Linked DNA regions of Homo sapiens. The protein of the gene in region 2 interacts with the protein of the main gene of each other region in a pairwise test. Each region holds a gene or a part of one and is shown on either strand. Other genes may lie near its edges.

What was found.
Region 1: the proteins of BATF2 (region 2) and AKAP19 interact in a two-hybrid assay, tested with the Homo sapiens proteins (one large-scale study listed by BioGRID and IntAct).
Region 3: the proteins of BATF2 (region 2) and DBP come close enough for resonance energy transfer, tested with the Homo sapiens proteins (one large-scale study listed by BioGRID and IntAct).
Region 4: the proteins of BATF2 (region 2) and MAFF come close enough for resonance energy transfer, tested with the Homo sapiens proteins (one large-scale study listed by BioGRID and IntAct).

The regions. Positions count from the first base shown.
Region 1 is NC_000002.12:190,182,891-190,187,787, forward strand, and holds part of AKAP19 (small membrane A-kinase anchor protein), read left to right. Parts: intron 1-4,897.
Region 2 is NC_000011.10:64,987,046-64,991,706, reverse strand, and holds the end of BATF2 (basic leucine zipper transcriptional factor ATF-like 2), read left to right. Parts: intron 1-1,429; exon of another isoform or gene 1,430-1,564; coding exon of another isoform or gene 1,565-1,633; intron 1,634-1,894; coding exon 1,895-2,578; 3' UTR 2,579-3,762; downstream 3,763-4,661.
Region 3 is NC_000019.10:48,629,105-48,632,926, reverse strand, and holds the end of DBP (D site-binding protein), read left to right. Parts: intron 1-1,874; coding exon 1,875-2,090; 3' UTR 2,091-2,897; downstream 2,898-3,822. Other genes in the region: SPHK2 (sphingosine kinase 2), read right to left, coding at 3,154-3,822. UniProt on the Homo sapiens protein: This transcriptional activator recognizes and binds to the sequence 5'-RTTAYGTAAY-3' found in the promoter of genes such as albumin, CYP2A4 and CYP2A5. It is not essential for circadian rhythm generation, but modulates important clock output genes.
Region 4 is NC_000022.11:38,199,687-38,205,218, reverse strand, and holds the start of MAFF (transcription factor MafF), read right to left. Parts: upstream 3,226-5,532; 5' UTR 3,007-3,225; exon of another isoform or gene 2,981-3,006; intron 2,200-2,980; exon of another isoform or gene 2,135-2,199; intron 1-2,134. UniProt on the Homo sapiens protein: Since they lack a putative transactivation domain, the small Mafs behave as transcriptional repressors when they dimerize among themselves.

The DNA of each region.
Region 1 (4,897 bases), on a different chromosome or scaffold from region 2:
TCTTGGCTTGTATTACTTAAAGCCTCTGTATGGTTTGCAGTTTGTTAGATAGACGTTTTAATCTTATGTCATTCATCATGTTAATTCTACTTTTCAGTTTTGTGTCACCTACACATTTGCTGAGTTTATTCACCAGACATTCAAGTCACTGATAATAGATAGGACAAGTCCTTTTACTGTGACCGTGGTACCTCTAGAAACCTGTGGCACAGTAGGAATGGTCCTGGATTTTTGGAGGCTGGTTTTGGAGTCTGGCCCTGATACCTATTAGCTTTGTGACCTTGAGAAACTTCAGTATCAATAAAATGAGGTAACATCTGCCTTTCAGGGTGGTTGTTAAAATTCAAAGTATTGAAAGTGCCAAGTACGATAATGGCTGGAAATCTAGTTGGCCTTCAGTAGATTTTGCTTGAACTAATGAATTCGCTGGACTCAGCCCTTTCTTATCAAACTATTCTAGTCCATAGAGCAGTCTTCTCCATAAGGACATTATGAGAAAAATGTCTTGCTGAAAAGTAAAGATCTTGCATATTCCCTGATCTACCACAAAAGTAAATAACATTAGTTTAAAAATGAATGATTCTTAGCAAATTGTTAGTTCCTAGAAATCCGCAGTCTTTTCCTCCACCCCTCATTTTTCCTTGTTTAATGTTTAAGTTTCGAATTTTGCCAGAGATAGATGTCAAACTATTAGTCTGTAAAGTCTAGGAATTCTAATTCTTTCTTTTAATTTTGAATATTAAAAATAAAAACACTGGGGGAAAAAAGTTCTGTTTGAATCTCTAGTCTCTTGAGACTGCCCTTCTTCTCCATGTTTTTATAGAGGTTGTCAGAATAGTTCTGTGCTGACATCTGCAGGTTCTTTTGGTACCCTGGAATATAATTCACCAGAATGTGAAGGCATGGACTATTTTAAAATGACCTCTTCTGCTTGCACCTTAGTTCTCTCTTAGTGAGGTTTCCATACTTTCCAGCTTGAAAATCATTTGCTTTTAAGGGAGCAAAATGTTGCTGAGCAGTTTTGTTTTCTTTCTCATTAGAATACGCTATCTATCCTTGGATTTGAGAATTTTAAAATGAGCCTTTCTTACTATACTTTCCATATAGTAAGTATACTATGCACAACATGCACTAAGTCGGTGGTTGAGAAGTAGAACCACTCATGGTGTTATAATGTTAAAAGTTTTGGCAGTAGTAAATAACTCTAATCAGTATCTCACATGGGAAGAGCCTTGTATTTTAAGAATGAATTTATTCCTTGTAAGTTAAAAGTTGTGAAATTAAGAGTGTTTCACAAGGGGCTGAAGGTAACATAAATTAGTGAAGCTGAATGGGAGGGAGTAACAGATATGTGACCCAAAGAGTGAATGCCTAGCTTAGAAATATTCTAATTCAGAACAGTTTCAACACTGCATTGGCCCAACAAAACACTGGCCCAAACACTACTGCAAGTTTGTAGTCTTTGCATGTAAACAGCCTGCAAGAGGCAGAACTATGTAAATTTCACTGTGTTCTTCCCAACATCTAACATACTATAGGCACATGGATAGTTGATAAATAGGAAAACTTTAGTAAGCATTCATTAATCGCCTTGATGTAGAGAACTGTTCTGTACAAAATAAAGAAAAAAATAACTCCTGCCCTTGAGGAATATCTAATCTCATTTGGGGAGACAGCATTTATAAATTAAAGACTAGACTTCAGTTCAAGAACAGAATTCTGAGGAAGGGCGGGAGGAGGACTAGGAAGTCTGCAATAAGGAGATACGGCTTCCCCTATCCTCAAAGATAGTACTTGGGTTTAAGTAAGGAACAGGGGAAAGGGTGCTGGGTGGAGATAAAGGCGAGGTGGTGTGTTTCAACTTAAAGGAGGACTAGGAGTAGGAAATGAGAATGGGTGAGCCAAGGAGACTCACTTGATGGGAGAGGAAATTTCCTTGTATTAGTGAGAAATTAAGTCCATTGGGTAAAAACAGGGCTTTAAAAAATGGTTACATTAAATGTACCTCTCTTCCCCCAAGACACTGTACTGTTAGGCCACAGAAAATAGGAACCATACAGTAACTCTTTAGGTAAAGATGTGGAGTATATGGATCATGAAAGAACTATGAAACTTTAAATGGCAAAATTTTCTGAATTTCTTGGTCCTCTGACCTAGAGTCCTAGTGAATTTGAACACTGTTCTTCCATGTCTCTATACCAGAGTAATGATTCTTTTCAGTGCTCAAAATTACATATACTGCTGCCTAGAATTTAATTCAGTGCACAGCACTTAACACTCTTTTATTAATTTATGCCTCCTACTTGTTCTAAAATGAAGTGGTTTTACTACATAAAGACTAATAGAAATTGAATTTGTAGGGGAGGAAAAAAGCTGTCCTCTACCCTCTTAGGTTTGTGACCAAGGCCTGTGAATCAAACTGATAAAAGAGTAATGGCATAAATAGAACAGATTTAAACACACGTATGCACAGGAGTTTGCAAAAGAAATGTGACTGGAGGAGGTGGTTAGAATTTGGGGCTTATCTACCAACTTAACAAAATGATAAAGCGGGAAGAGGTTCTAGATCAGATTTTCTTTACTAGTTGGTCAGAGCTCCTTTTCATTTTTCTGTGAGGATTTATATTATGGTGCTGGAGGAATTGCTGCAGATTGAAGGTCAACATTCATGGCCATAAATAGGAGTGGCCAGATGAAGCCACCTGGTAGCCAGAGTGAAGCCCAGAAGGGCTTAGGGAAATACCTGCTTGTGTATGTGTGTGGTTTTTTTCCTCTACCTGGAGGACCTGGTAAATGAGATGAAGTATTGATACCTGGACTTAAGACATCTATCGCCTGTTCAACAGTTAGTCTATCATCTAATTGTTCAAAATCCTAAATTACTGTTGTCATTCTTAGATTATAATTCTCTTTCCTCAATTATAATCTGGAGATATAATACAACACTTAATAATTAGATGTTAGTAGCTTTAGGAGACAATCTGGAGAGATAAGAAATGGAAATAACACAGAACATGTTCCACGTTCCAAGGGAAGTTCTAGATGCTTTACATATAGATTCACAATTTTTATTTTTTTGAGACAGAGTCTTCACTCTGTCGCCCAGGCTGGAGTGCAGTGGTGCGATCTTGGCTCTCTGCAACTTCTGCCTCCCAGGTTCAAACGATTCTGCTGCCTCAGCCTCCCTAGTAGCTGGGATTACAGGCATATGCCACCACACCTGGCTGATTTTTTTAGTTTTAGTAGAGATGGGGTTTCACCATGTTGGCCAGGCTGGTCATGAACTCCTGACCTCAGGTGATCCACCCACTTTGGCCTCCCAAAGCACTGGGATTACAGGCGTGAGCCACCATGCCCAACCAAAATCACAATTTTTAGATGACTGAGGTAGAGCCCAGTTCACAGATAAAATCATACCATACCGCTTTATTCAGGTTTATTAGAATCTCAAACATTGTCTCATTTCTTAACAATGTTATTTTCTCTGCCTCTCTATTGAGAAATTTTGGCCCCAAGTGTGACCACATGGAGTCATCCTGAGCCCATCCTGTCAGTGACCAGCTGTACAGTGTGTGTGCTCTAAGTGCCTAAGGATGAAACCGACTTCTCAGTTTCTAAGGTCCCTACAGTAGTGTTCTTTCGGTGACCTTCATACTGACCAAAGTCATATATACAGTATTTTGTAGCTTTTCCTTTTTGGTGAAAGACAAAGAACACTACATTTAAATTATGTCCATTTCTGTTTGCCTGTTTAACCAATGTCATTTGATCCTGTTGTGAATTTATAGTCCAAGTGAATGATTCTCAATACTCCCAGTACAAAGACCTCCACTTACTGTCCAGTTTTCACGGAGCCCTACAAGAAAGTATATTCTTAGTATCCATTATTAGAGAACATATAATGACAAATATGTTACTAGGAACTGAGATATATGTATTTTTTATAAACTTATTTTTTATTTTTTTTGAGACTGAGTCTCACTCTATCGCCCAGGCTGGAGTGCAGTGGCGTGACCATGGCTCACTGCAACTTCCGCCTCCCAGGTTCAAGTGATTCTTGTGCCTCTGTCTCCTGAGTAGCTGGAATTACAGGCACCTGCTACCATGCCCAGCTGATTTTTGTATCTTTAGTAGAGATGGCATTTCACCATGTTGGCCAGGCTGGTCTTGAACTCCTGACCTCAGGTGATCTGCCCACCTCGAGTTATGTTTTAATGAATTGGTATTTTTATTAATCACATCTACACTGAAATTTGAAAGACATTTTATATATATATGCATAAAACTTTTTCAAAGACCACAACATGGTTTTTTTATATATTTACATTAATTCAGGGTGAGACCAATTTTAAGCAATAACTTGAGATATAAGGCATCTTAGAAACCTGTGTAAAGGCTTAAGAATATGACATAAAATGGGACAATGGTAAAATAAACCATCCCTGTTAATCCAGTGTTTAAGATGGACTTCTGGGGAGTTAGCAGCCTATTCGTTTACACAGCAGATTTTAGAAGTTACTTTTTTTTTTTTTTTTTGCTGGTTTTGTGTTTGGGTCCAACTCATGTCCAAATTATGGCCTTTTTGTGATACCTTCCACTGGCATATTCCCAAGGAATTTACTCCTTTTGATGACACTGCACCCAGAATGGAGGAACACAGCTACAAAATGAACTATAAAGAAGGGCTAGGCAGGCATGGTGGCTCACACCTATCATCCCAGCACTTTGAGAGGCCAAGGCAGAAGGATCACTTGACGCCAGGAGTTCACAACCAGCCTGGGCAATATGGCTGTCTCTACAAACAATATAAAAAATAACGTGGGCATGGTGGCACGTGCCTATAGTCGCAGGTACTCAGGAGGCTGAAGCCAGAGAATAGTTTGAACCCAGGAGTTCG
Region 2 (4,661 bases):
AGCCAGACCCACAAACAAAAAGTCCCTAGAGTGGTCAGGATGTCAGATGGTGTTAAATCCTGTTGGGAAAACTAAAGCAGAGAAGAGGGAAGGGATGAAATTGAAATTGTTACTCCTTGAGCCTCCTGAAGGTGGCAAACGAATGAATAAATGAATGAGTGAGTGACTCCGTTCCTGGAGGTGAGTTGAAGCCTTTGGAGAATTTAGGTGAAGGGTGGCCTAATGATACATTTTAGAAATGTCCATCATTCCGGCCAGGCACATTGGCTCACGCCTGCAATCCCAGCACTTTGGGAGGCCAAGGCTGGCGGATCACGAGGTCAGGAGTTCGAGACCAGCCTGACCAACATGGTGAAACCCCATCTCTAGTAAAAATACAAAAATTAGCTGGGCATGGTTGTGCATACCTGTAGTCCCAGCTACTCGGGAGGCTGAGGCAGGAGAATCGTTTGAACCTGGGAGGCAGAGGTTGCAGTGAGCCGAGATTATGCCATTGCACTCCAGCCTGGGCGACAGAGCAAAACTCTGTCTCAAAAAAAAAAAAAAAAAAAAATTCATCATTCCACATGTAGAAACCAGCGTGGCAATGGGGCTGGTGGCTTTCAGGCTGAGTCCAGGGCCGGGCGCGGTGGCTCACGCCTGTAATCCCAGAACTTTGGGAGGCCGAGGCAGGCAGATCACGAGGTCAGGAGATCGAGACCATCCTGGCTAACATGGTGAAACCCCGTCTCTACTAAAAATACAAAATATTAGCCAGGCGTGGTGGCGGGCGCCTGTGGTCCCAGCTACTCAGGAGGCTGAGGCAGGAGAATGGTGTGAACCTGGGAGCTTGAGCTTGCAGTGAGCCGAGATCGAGCCACTGCACTCCAGCCTGGGCGACAGAGCCAGACTCCATCTCAAAAAAAAGAACTTTGAGTCCAGGGCCAAAACCACATTTTTATGCAAAACACCTTTGCAACTTCTTCTTTCAAAGTGTCCAGAAAAGGGGGTGGGGGACTGAAGGAAGTCGTTCAATTTATTCAGCCCTGTGAGATGTGGATATAAAATTCTTTCTGCATTTTTACCATTACTGTCATCATAAATGGTTATTTAGAACTGCACATTGATTGTGTCTCAGGGGTTCTCAGAACCGGCGTTCAGCAGAACAGAACTTAATAAATGCTGATTCAGGGATGCAGAATCGAACACACTCATGCTGTCAACCTGTAAAACAATCCCCTGAATCCTCCCACAGTGCTCGTAGGGGCGAGTTCTGGGCCCTCAAAAGGGCAGTGGCAATAAGCAATCTAGGACAGAATGACATCAAGGTTGCCACGGGAAGGCCCTGTTGGGATTTGCACAGAGAAGGGCGGCGGAAGGGTGTCCAGGCAGAGGAAACAGGAAATGTGGCCGGGAAGCAGAGTTCATGTGAGGGTCAGGAAGGGAGGGGAGCAAGAAAGAAGGCGAGAGAGAGGAGACCGGAGGTCTGAGCTGCAGCCACTACACAGGCCTGGAATTCTACCACAGGGAATTTGGTGGGTGCCTCTAAAGGGCTTTAACCTGCAATTAATGACATGGTTGCTGAATGGCTCCTGTGGGCAAGAGAATAGGTGGTTTGGGGGACACACGGGTTGGAGGCCCGTGCATATCCCAGGTGAGAAATGGCACCGGCTCAGGGCACTAGTGGTGGGATGACAGCAGGCGGATCTGAGCCCCCTTCAGAGGGTGGGACAGGGGAGACTTGGTAGGTGGTTATGAAGGGCTGGCCAGAGAGTGGCCAAGAGACCCCACTTGGCTATTCCAATGGTGGTGGCATCTTTCTCCTGAAGTTGAGGACCCTGGAAGGGGCTAAGGCTCATGCGGGGCCCCTGACACTGGCTGAGGTTCCCCTCCCCGCCCATCTGCTTCTCTGCAGCAGCACGAGTCTCTGGAAAAAGACAACCTCGCCCTGCGGAAGGAGATCCAGTCCCTGCAGGCCGAGCTGGCGTGGTGGAGCCGGACCCTGCACGTGCATGAGCGCCTGTGCCCCATGGATTGTGCCTCCTGCTCAGCTCCAGGGCTCCTGGGCTGCTGGGACCAGGCTGAGGGGCTCCTGGGCCCTGGCCCACAGGGACAACATGGCTGCCGGGAGCAGCTGGAGCTGTTCCAGACCCCGGGTTCCTGTTACCCAGCTCAGCCGCTCTCTCCAGGTCCACAGCCTCATGATTCTCCCAGCCTCCTCCAGTGCCCCCTGCCCTCACTGTCCCTTGGCCCCGCTGTGGTTGCTGAACCTCCTGTCCAGCTGTCCCCCAGCCCTCTCCTGTTTGCCTCGCACACTGGTTCCAGCCTGCAGGGGTCTTCCTCTAAGCTCAGTGCCCTCCAGCCCAGCCTCACGGCCCAAACTGCCCCTCCACAGCCCCTCGAGCTGGAGCATCCCACCAGAGGGAAGCTGGGGTCCTCTCCCGACAACCCTTCCTCTGCCCTGGGGCTTGCACGTCTGCAGAGCAGGGAGCACAAACCTGCTCTCTCAGCAGCCACTTGGCAAGGGCTGGTTGTGGATCCCAGCCCTCACCCTCTCCTGGCCTTTCCTCTGCTCTCCTCTGCTCAAGTCCACTTCTAACCTGGTCTTCGGAGCTGGGTTGGCCCCTTCTTTGGGCTCAGGAAGCAGCCTTAGCACACGGGCCTCTCCTCCCTCACTACTGGGTGCTGCCCTGCGTGGCTGACCAGCTGGCCCAGGATTTCACAGTCGAAAAGGAAGCCACCACTGATGCCTCCCACTGTGACAGGCCCTGTCACCACCAATATCTTATTTCAACCTCACAGTTGACCTGAGAAATCGAGATTATCACTCCACTTTTTCAGACAAGGAAACTGAGGCTCAGGGAAGCCAAGTGACAAGTCCAAGGTCACGAAGACTTTCTTGGAGCCCGAAACACCACCCTCTGCTCCTCCTTCTCCTGTCCTGGCCCAGGCATCCTAGGGGCTGAAATCCTGGAAACCGTGGGCTGGTGTGAGAAGGTTTGCATGCTCAGAGCAGAGAAGGGCTCTCCCCACTGCTTCGTGATTCCAGGGCCAGAGCCATGCAGTCCCAGAAACCCCAACCTAGCTGGGGCAGGTCCAGAGTCCAAGCCCTGGTGGGTAGAGGCCAAGCAGAAGCCCTGAAGTGGACTCTTGCTTCCCCTAGTAGTGTTTTCAGTGCCAAGAAGCTGAAACTGTGAGCTGGAGTTGGGGAGAGGTCTGGAAGAGGACCATCTGGGATTTCTACAGCCTGGGTACCCATAGCCACACCAAGGCTTCTGGGAGATTCTGCAGGGTCAGCTTTCCAGGCTGTTCCCAAATAGCTCCCTGCCTCCCCACTGCCCCTAAAGCCACAGCAGAAGAGCCATTCATCTCATAAACAAAAAGGAAGAGGAAAGAATGAGGAAGGACCCTGTGCAAGGTTATTTGCAGGCAGGGATGGGCTTGTACCTGACAGCACCCACCCCTGTGTGGCCCCCAGGCCCTCATCACCCTCAGACCCCTCCTAAGCAGTTCCCTCATTGCTCTTTGGACTAGGCTGACAGCAGGAAGAGCAGGGCCCATGACCGGGTGGAAGTTCAGTTTTGGTGTCTGCTTCAAGAGGGGGTTTTACACTCTGATTCCAGGACAAGCACTCTGAGGCGGGTGGGGGAGAGAAACCCTGGCTCTTCACCCAGGTTTCACACACATGTAAATGAAACACTATGTTAGTATCTAACACACTCCTGGATACAGAACACAAGTCTTGGCACATATGTGATGGAAATAAAGTGTTTTGCAATCTTTTCTGCTTTGCCTAGTTACTTAAACCTCTCTTTGTAACCTACAGAGTCTTTGAAAAAAGAGAGAATAACAGAGATGGGCAACCCCTCATGAACCAGCTAATTAATCTCCCTCCAATACTACAGATGAGGAAACTGAGGCTCAGAGATGAGACGGACTTGCGCAGGTGTATTAGTCAGTGTTCTCTAGAGAAATAGAACCAATAGAGTGTGTGTGTGTGTGTGTGTGTGTGTGTGTGAAGACAGAGAGATTTTTTTTTTAATGTTGTTTTTTTTTTGAGATGGAGTTTCACTCTTGTCACCCAGGCTGGAGTGCAATGGTGCAATCTCGGCTCACTGCAACCTTCGCCTCCCGGGCTCAAGTGATTCTCCTGCCTCAGCCTCCCAAGTAGTGGGGATTACAGGTGCCCACCACCACACCCAGCTAATTTTTTCCTTTTTTTGAGACAGAATCTCGCTCTGTCGCCCAGGCTGGAGTGCAGTGGTGCAATCTCGGCTCACTGCAAGCTCCGCCTCCCGGGTTCACGCCATTCTCCTGACTCAGTCTCCTGGACTACAGGCGCCTGCCACCATGCCCGGCTAATTTTTTTTTTTTTTTTTTTTTTGTATTTTTAGTAGAGACAGGGTTTCACCATGTTAGCCAGGATGGTCTCGATCTCCTGACATTGTGATCTGCCTGCCTCGGCCTCCCAAAGTGCTGGGATTACAGGCATGAGCCACCACACCCAGCCTCACGCCCAGCTAATTTTTGTATTTTTAGTAGAGATGGGGTTCCACCATGTTGGCCAGGCTGGTCTCGAACTCTTGACCTCAAGTGATCTGCCCGCCTTGTCCTCCCAAAGTGCTGGGATTACAGGCGTGAACCACCACGCCCTGCCAAGGGAGACTTATTTTAAGAAATTG
Region 3 (3,822 bases), on a different chromosome or scaffold from region 2:
CTTGGGTCCAGAGCTCCACCAGGCACACTTGCAAAGGACAGTCTTCCTTTGGCAATGGGATATCAGCCTGTGGCCTGTCTCTCCTTACTCAGCAGGCCTTTGATCTCTGATGTGGGACTTCCTTTGGAGTGATTGCATTTGGCTAGGATGAAGACTGTGCCAGCCCCTTTAGGCCTTGTTTCCTGGGCCTGGACTTCTCACTGGTGGGAGACTTCAGGCTTCTGTTAGCAGCCAGTGCCACTTTCTGATTTGGGGTGATTTGAGCAGTCATTGCATCTTTGCATGATTTTGTTTTTTGCCATTACTGGAGTCTTCCCTAGCAAGAGTTGCTTGGGCTTCTGTTACAAGACTTTGTCATTCCGGGCCAGGCGCGTTGGCTCACGCCTGTAATCCTAGCACTTTAGGAGGCTGAGGTGGGCGGATCACTTGAGGTCAGGAGTTTGAGACCAGCCTGGCCAACATGGTGAAACCTCGCCTCTACTAAAAGTACAAAAATGTTCCGGGTGTGGTGTCTCACACCTGTAATCACAGCACTTTGGGAGGCCGAGGCGGACAGATCACGAGATCAGGAGACCATCCTGGCCAACATGGTGAAACCCCGTCTCTACAAAAAAATACAAAAATTAGCTGGGCATGGTGGCACTCATCTGTAGTCCCAGCTACTTGGGAGGCTAATGTAGGAAAATCGCTTGAACCCAGGAGACGGAGGTTGCAGTGAGCCGAGATCGCGCCACTGCACTCCAGCCTGGGCGACAGAGTGAGAACTCCATCTCAAAAAAAAAAAAAAAGAACAAAAATTAGCCGGACATGGTAGCGGGCACCTATAATCCCAGCTACTTGGGAGGCTGAGGCAGGAGAATCGCTTGAACCTGGGAGGTGGAGGTTGCAATGAGCCGAGATCATGCCACTGCATTCCAGCCTGAACGACAGAGCGAGACTCCATCTCAAAAACAAACAAGACTTTGCCATACCCTTGCGTAACACATAGCTACTTGAAGCACCTAGGACTGGCCTGGAAGTCAGATCTACACCAGTGGTTTCTCCTTCTAGAGGGCCCTGTTGCTAGGGACTGGATTTACCCTCACAAGCAGGAACTGGGCTTTAATTAAATAGTGGAGTAGAGAGCATCTTTCTGAGCCCCGTGGTCCTTGGTTACTAAGGAGGAGTCTTCCTTAGGAACCAACTTCCAGGATGGGAGGACTTTAGGTATAATCCTCTGGGGAGGTCTCAGGATAGTCCCCTTTCCTAAGAGACAGCTCTTCTCTCAGTCAGGTCCTACTGGGGAGGAGGCTATTCTCTGGCCTCAGTTCAAGGCCAGCAGGTCAGAGGCTGGCCACAGTCATTGAAACCACTTAGACCTCACTTTTGTTTGCCAAGGATGGATGAGGTTGCCTTGGCAACCAGGTCAGAAGGCCCCAGCTCTGCGAGGATTTTATGGGACACCAAACCCCATCACCAGGGCACCAAGCTTTCCTTAGCAACCAGGATCTGGAAAGGCAATGTGCAGGGCAGGGCAGTGCTCTTCATTGGGAGAAGCCCTCAGACCATGAAGGCCTTGTTGCTAGGGAACAAGCATCCTTAGCAAGCAAGAGCTAACTGCATGCAGGCCTTTATCATGTGGGGAGGGCTGGGGTCCGCTTTGCAGAGTGGAGACTTGAAGCGAGTTGCTTGAGGGTGGGGGGTCTATCTCATGCCTTTACTGTTGCTAGGGGCCCAATCTCCTTAGCAACCAGGGCCCTAGAAAGGCAGACCCTTGGGTACCTATCCCAGCAGAGACCTGGTGTGGTTTAGGCCCCGCTGCTGGGGCTCCCTTCCTCTCTCGCTGGGACCTGGGTCCCTCTGGACCTCAGTGCTCTCCCCCTCTTCTCCTGCAGGATGAGAAATACTGGAGCCGGCGGTACAAGAACAACGAGGCAGCCAAGCGGTCCCGTGACGCCCGGCGGCTCAAGGAGAACCAGATATCGGTGCGGGCGGCCTTCCTGGAGAAGGAGAACGCCCTGCTGCGGCAGGAAGTTGTGGCCGTGCGCCAGGAGCTGTCCCACTACCGCGCCGTGCTGTCCCGATACCAGGCCCAGCACGGGGCCCTGTGAGGCTGCCCCACATCCCCACCTGGCGGAGCTCTCCTCCGCCTTGCTGAGACTTACGCCCTGTTCCCTTCCTGCCCTGTGGCCCACGGGCCGGCCAGCTGGGTGCCCCAGGGACGTGATAATGCAGATAAATACATTTATATTTTTAAGAAAAAGCGAGCCTCCCCCCTCCCTTGCGGGGGCGGGGAGGGTTCTCTGTGTGTGTCCCCGGCACGTCAGGGACCCTATCCTCCCACCGCCTCCGTTAACACGATCCTGAATAAATCTTGAGAACCCCAGAGCCAGCTGTTGTGGAAGAAGAGGGCAGCTCCCTGGCATACTGGCTGCAGCCCGTGGGCAGCTCCGGGCTGTCGTCCATAGAGGGCAGGCGCTGCTGGAAGTGCTGGAGTCTGAGTCCTCCCGCGGGCTGTCGGATGGAGGAAGGGCAGAAGGTCTGAGAGGAATGAAGCGACTGCCTTTATTGCATAGACCTTTTCAATTGCTTTTTAGATTGGGGACGGAGGACGCGCATGAGACGAACAGGGGATATGAATTTCCCCGCCCCCACCCGCGGGGAGAGGAACATTAGTGCAAATCCTAGCGCCGGCCCCGGGGAACCTGCCCCTCCTGGGCTGATTGGCCAGCTAAATGGAGGCACCGGAGTGGATGGGGCGAGGCTGCGGGCCCTGACCGGCCGACTCACTGAGGCCTACCCCAGCCAGTACATTCCAGGTCCTGTCATTGGGCGACGCGTAAAATAGACTCCGCCCTCAGCCATCCTGGCCGGGTAGGAGCAGGTGGCAAGCGTCAGGACTGAGCCCTGCCCCGTAAGGGCGGCCCCAGATCAGACGCCAGGCCCCGCCCTCATTGATCAGGCACTACCCTCGGGACGAGCCCATTTCTCTTTAACCGTGACGACGCCCACCTTCCAGCATCACGTCTGGTCCCATGAAAGCGAGCGCAATCCTGAGACGGGGCCAGGGCCCCTGCCACCACAACTCTAGCAGCCAGGCCACACCCCCTAGCTCAGGCTCCGCCCCATTGGAATGTAGGCCCCGCCCCCGGCGGGTACCAAGCTTGTTTAGTTTCAGGGCTCCCGCCCCGGGCAGCCAGGAGGCCCAGTGAGCAGTGTACCGATGCCAGGGTGCATCTGTGCCTGTAGCGGCCCATACTCCACCTGCTCCCCGTCCACTGTGAGCACGCCGCGTGGTGTGAGCGGCTCTAGGCGGAAGGCACGGGCCGCGGCGTAGCCCAGCTGCGGACAGCCCAGGCTGAAGTGGCTACCACGCTCCATGGCCAAGAAAAGGCGCAGCAGCGCAGCCCGCGAGATGCCGCTACGCACCCAGCACAGGTGCACCAGGCCGTCGTCGAAGCGCGCATGCGGAGCTGCCACCAGGTCAGCGCCTAGGTGGCTGGGCGAGATGGCCAACATGAGCACAAAGTCCCCCTCCAGCGTCACCCAGTCTGGGGGCAGCGGGGTGCCCAGCGGAGGCAGCAGGTGGTCGGGCGGGCCGCAGGTGGAGGCCCCTACCCGGGCATCAGGGGTGGGAAGTGGGAGCCCAGAGGATGGGGGAATTACGGGGGCCCCTTCGGAGACGGGTGAGTGTAGAGCTGCCTTGGGAGAGCCAGGAGGTGAAGACAGCAGTGGGTCCGGGGACAGCGGAGCATCCCCAGCCCCACCCCAGTCCCCAGCCAGCTCTGGGCCCCCACCGTTGAGGGACAGGATGGGCAGGGGTTCTGGCGAGCCAGGAGAGGC
Region 4 (5,532 bases), on a different chromosome or scaffold from region 2:
CAAACGTCCTCCGAGCCTAAGGTACCTTCCAACAATGACTGTCTCTGAGTTTAGAGTTTCAGATTCTGGCCCAGAGCTCCAAGACCACCAGCAGAATGGAGGTAGGGAAAGGAAAGCGGTGAAGGCTTCCTGGAGGTGGGGGCATGAGACACAAACTATCAGACTATCAGACTAGCCCTCTTCTCCACCTGCACAGCCACAGACCACTTCCTCCTTCATCTGGACCATGACCACAACCGCCTGCTCACCAGCCTCTTGCCTTGCCCTCCGTCTCCAATCCCCATCATTGATCCTCCCCCAAGAGCTGTCAGAGGAATCACTACTGACACAAACCCACGAGCCTGTCCGTGCTTGGCCCATTTCAAAACCCTGCAATGCCAGCCTCCCCGCAAGCCAACACAGTAGGGTCCTCAGGCCTCAACCGTATTCCTGTCCACTCTCTCCCAGGATCGTATGCTAACAGATGAATGAACAGACAGCAAATTCTACTATCCCTGAATGTTTCCCAAAGGGACAAGCGGGCAGTGCATGCCTGTGTGTGTGAGGGAGGAAGTTGCCTGAGTCCTGAAGGATTTGCTCGCTTTTGGGAGACTGCTTCAAGATTCCCCCAGCCCCTGCCCTGGCTTCCTGTTTCTCTGGGGTTCCCAGGCCTTTTTCTCCATGTGTTGTGGAGCTCTTAGAGGGCAGGGATCCAGGGCTCATTCATTCAATCAGCAAACATCCAAGAAGCACCTACTATGTTCCAGGCTCTGTGCTGGGCCCTGGAGACCCTGAAGTGAATCACAGCTCCTGCCTTCAAGGGCTTCACAGACAACCACCACTCTATCAGACTCAGCACACTAGTCACCTCCCCAGGGAAGCCTTCCTTGATTGCCCTGGCTAAGTCAGAGCGCTGTTATGTACTTTCAAACCACAGTGACTTCTCCCTCACATCACCCATCTAAGCTGTGTTTTGCATTTACTTCTGTGGATCTTTTTTCAAGTTTGTGTCCGCTGCTGAGCTATAAGCTCCCAGAGGGCAGTCTCTGGATCTGGTCTGTTCATCTCATCCCTGGCATCTGGTCCAGGACAAGGGCCCAATGGCAATGCAGGGCCCAGGGGTGATTCAATGGGAAGTTAAACTTCTCAGTGCTAACTTTCCATCTGGGACTGAGTCAACCAGCCACTTCCCCTCATCCCCTGACCCCAGGCCCTACTTTGTAATGTTTCCTGCCCAGCTTTGAGGGTGGGCCTGTCTGGTTCCTGTGCTCCTGGCCCCAACCCTCCTGACTCAAACCCCACCTACTCTTGGGTACCCCCAGCTCCTGGCATGGGGCTGTCAGCCCTGCTTTCTCTTCCACAATTCACCTGGAAAATACGCTGTCTGCACAGACTTCCAGAGCTTCCCCCTTCTACCCACCATCCTGCCATCCTGGCTGTTACCTAGTTCCCAGTGGTAGATGGGAATACTGAGGGTCCGGGCTGCTGTAGCAGAGCTCACCCAGGGTTCAAAGATCCAAAGTCAAAAGATCATTGGTTCCTCACCCTAGCAAGTTCAATTGCTCCCCTCCCACAATTCCATAGACCGTGGGTGGGTGGGTGGAGGGGGAAGGTGGATTAAGACCAAGGAATCTCTAGCCCCCAGCCCATCCTGCAGGCGGCTACGACAAACAGGTGCTTTCTGCAGGGCTATTGGGTGAGTGGGTGGGTGGCGGCTAGGTCAGGCCCCACCCCTCACTCATTAACCCTCCGTGCAGTCAGAGTTCTATCCCCAATGCCTACTGACCCTGCCTGGCCCAGGGTGAGGGCACTCGGGGTCTGTCGGCTGGCTCAGAGCCTCAGCTAGCTTCCGGCGTCCAGCTGTAGGTCAGTCTAGTCTCACCAGTCCCACTTGTGAACTGAAACTACCAGGAGAGCGGAAACCGGCTCCGCCCCATCCTCCACGACCTAGCAGGTACAGCCTCCAGAACCCGGACTAGCTAAAAGCCTGTGGTCCTCTCCCTGCGCCGCACCCTTGCAGTCAAGGTTTTCTGGCCCTTCCTGTTCTCATGGGACTGAGGGGATGGGCAACCCTGGGGACGAACGAGAGTCCCTTGGTTCTTCCCTCCCCAGGAAGCCCCAAAATCTGGGGACAAGAACCTGGGCTCCAACTCACTTTGTTACCAGATCCACCGGGGTGCCAAGCGGGGGTGGCTCACATCCCTCACTCCTAGCTCAGCTGGGTGGGGTCTTTGATACCTTGCCCCACCCTGTGGCTGCGGGCGCGGGCTCTGGGCGGGAGACAAACACTGGGGTCACGTGGCGGAGGCCCTGGGAAACTCCGGGGAGAGCCGGGGACGGACAGCCCCGGGTAGTAGGACTGGGGCGGCCCGGGCCAGAATTCCCAGACCCCGTGCGAAGACGCACGGGTCCGCTTCCTTCGCTCGGGTCCTTGTTCCGCGTTTACTCCGGTGGCCGGCCCAGGGCACGCCCTCTCCGAGGTACACACTGCTGGTGTACAGGCCCCAGGGAGCGCGCGCGCGGACACGCACACACAAGCACAACACACGCACACACGCCCCCGAGGTACACAGCGCACGCACGCACCGGGCAGGATACCCAGGCCGCCCGCCAGGGAACACACGCCCGCCCTCGGACGTAAACAAACCGCGCACGCACCGCCCGCGGGCGCCGGGCCAGGGCCTGTTCCCACCGAGTCACGTAGGAGCACAGCGCCCCCGCCCCCGCCGGGCGGACGCGGAGATCGCCGGCCTGCGCTGCCCCTTCCTCCCGGCGCCGCCGCCTACCCGCCCGCGCCCCGGGAAGGGGCCCCGTCTCCACCCCCACTCCCCCGAGCTGGCCTCGGCCCCGTCCTCGGCGTCCCCGGGACGGCCGCTCCCTTCTCCCCGCCCCGAGCCGTCCGGGCGATGGAGCTCCGGGAGCCCCGACGGATCGGGCCCGGGCGCCCACCCCAGGCGCATCCCGGGACGCAGAAACCCTGCCGCCTTGGGGTCCCGCGCACCGTCCTCCTGGTCCCGCGTTCCTCACCCGCTTCTGGGCCCGCTTGGTCCGGCGCGCTCACACACGCGCGTCTCGCCGCTGTCCCGGCCGCTGTCCCGATCCGCGCTCCGGTCAGTCTCCCCTCCGCTCTGAGCCGCAGGTCGCTCTGAACCGGGCGCCCGGGAGCGCTGCGCTGAGTTTTGTTGTGGGGCGGGCGGCGCAGGGGGCCGAGGCCGCGCGGAGTTGTAAGGCGAGCTTCCCGGAATTACTCACTCACAGGATTCCTTTCATTCATAAAAACCCAGTCATGCGGTGACGTCACCGACCCGGCCGCCCTCCGGCCAGGAGCGGCCGCTTGGTCCCTCGGCCCCGCCCCCGTATGACCCCGCCCCCTGGAAGCCCCGCCCCCGGGGCTGCCGCGATTCTCTGCCTGGTTCCAGGGCTCGCTGGGTGCGTTCACGTGACACCTCGCGAGAGCCCCGTGGGTGTAGGTGTCATTGGCTCATTTTACAGGTAGTGGTCCTGGCCCTCTTCTTTCGACCTAGACCTTCTGCCTTAATGATCTCATCCAGTCCCGTGGCTTTAAATGACATTTATATGGCTATGAGCCCCAGGTTTGTATTTCCGGAGCGAACAGCTTCTCTGAGTTCCAGACTCATAGCCAGCTGCCCACTCTGCGCATCCAGTGGGTGTCAGATGGGCACTGCAGAGGACTCGGCCCAAAAACCCGCTCCTGATCGTCAGCCCTACCTCTGCTCCCTTGCCACCCCATCTCAGCTGCTCAAGCCAAAACCTTGGAGCCTGGCTCCATCCCTCCCTCTCCCTTCCTCCCCACCTCAGGACTCAAGCTAGCGGTGTCTCCAGGTCTCCTGCATAGGACCATTTCTCACCACCTCCAGTCATGGCACCTGGTCTCGGCACCATCAGCTTACCCGGACAATGGCAGCAGCCTCCGAGGCTCCCTACTTTGCCTCCAAAGTCTTTCTTTCTATACCAGCCAATGTTCTTCTCAAAACAAAGCTCAGGTTGTTTACACACCTTCTTTGGCCACTCTCTCCTCATCCACTGCTCTTCGGCCACAGTGCCCTTCTTTCTGTCCCCCAAACATACCAAGCTCATTCCTGCGACAGGCCCTTGGCACTGGCTGTCTGGTCTTCTGTTCACTTGCCTGACTCTTTCTCATCTTTCACGTCAGCCCGGATGTCACTGCCTCAGAGAGACATTTCCTGACCACCCTGGTTAAAGCAGTCTTCACCTCTGAATTTTTTTTTTTTTTTCGAGACAGGGTCTCACTCTGTCACCCAGGCTGGAGTGCAGTGGCACAATCTCGGCTCACTGCAACCTCCTTCTCCTGGACTCCAGCCATTCTCCCACCTTAGCCTCCCAAGTAGCTGGGACCATAAGCACACACCACCATGCTAGGTTCATTTTTTGTATTTTTTTTTTTTTTTTTTTTTTTTTTTTTTTGTAGAGACAGGGTTTTGCCATGTTGCCCAAACTGGTCTCAAACTCCTGGACTCAGGCAATCCACCCACGCTGGCCTCCCAAAGTAATGGGATTACAGGCGCAAGCCACCGCACCCAGCCTTGAAATTTGTTCTTATATTATCTTAATACTTCTGTAGGGTGTTTCATCATTTATGTATGTGAGTGCTGGTTATTGTCTGTCTTCCCCAACCAGAATGTATGTTTTATGAAGGCAGGCCTTGCTTCTTTTTCTTTTTCTTTTTTTTTTTTTGAGACAGAGTCTCACTCTGTTGCCCAGGCTGGAGTGCAGTGGCATAATCTTGGCTCACTGCAACCTCCGCCTCCCAGGTTCAAGGAATTCAGCCCCCCAGTAGCTGGACTACAGGTGAGTCACCATGCCCAGCCAGGCTGGTTTTGAACCCCTGACCTCAGGCCACCCACCTCGGCCTCCCAAAGTGTTGGGATTGCAGACATGAGCCACTGCGCCTGGCCAGGCTTATCTTGTTCACCACTGCCTGCCCAGTGCCTGGAGTAGTGCTTGGCACATAGTAGGCCCACAGTAAATACATGTTGAAGGAATACATGACTGGAGGCTCAGAGAGGTGAAGGTGACTTTCTAAATTCACTCAGCTAGGAAGTACAAGCACTGGAATTGGTATCCAGGTCTGAATGATTCCTGGCCCAGATGTTTGGGGGTACATCGCAACCAGGGGAGGAGGGCCACATAAACATGAGGGGTGTGCGCCGTGGTGGGAAGCCCCACCCAAAAGAGATGGCTTTGGAGGCCACGTGCGGGGTGGATGTTGCTGTTCATCCCCTGCTTTCCTTTGCTCATGATGTTCCCACTGCCTGAAATTCCATCGCTCCCACAGTCCCTCCTGTGAAGCCGACATCATGGCACTTACTCCACTGTGGAGGGCATAGGGCCTCTCCAAATGGGTAGGCCTCTATGTGGCACCCTGATCACCAGTAAGGATCCCCACTTTCCTTTTTTTTTTTTTTTTTTTGAGCCGGAGTCTCGCTGTGTTGCCCCAGGCTGGAGTGCAGTGGCGCGATCTCAGCTCACTGCAAGCTCCACCTCCCGGGTTCACGCCATTCTCCAGCCTCA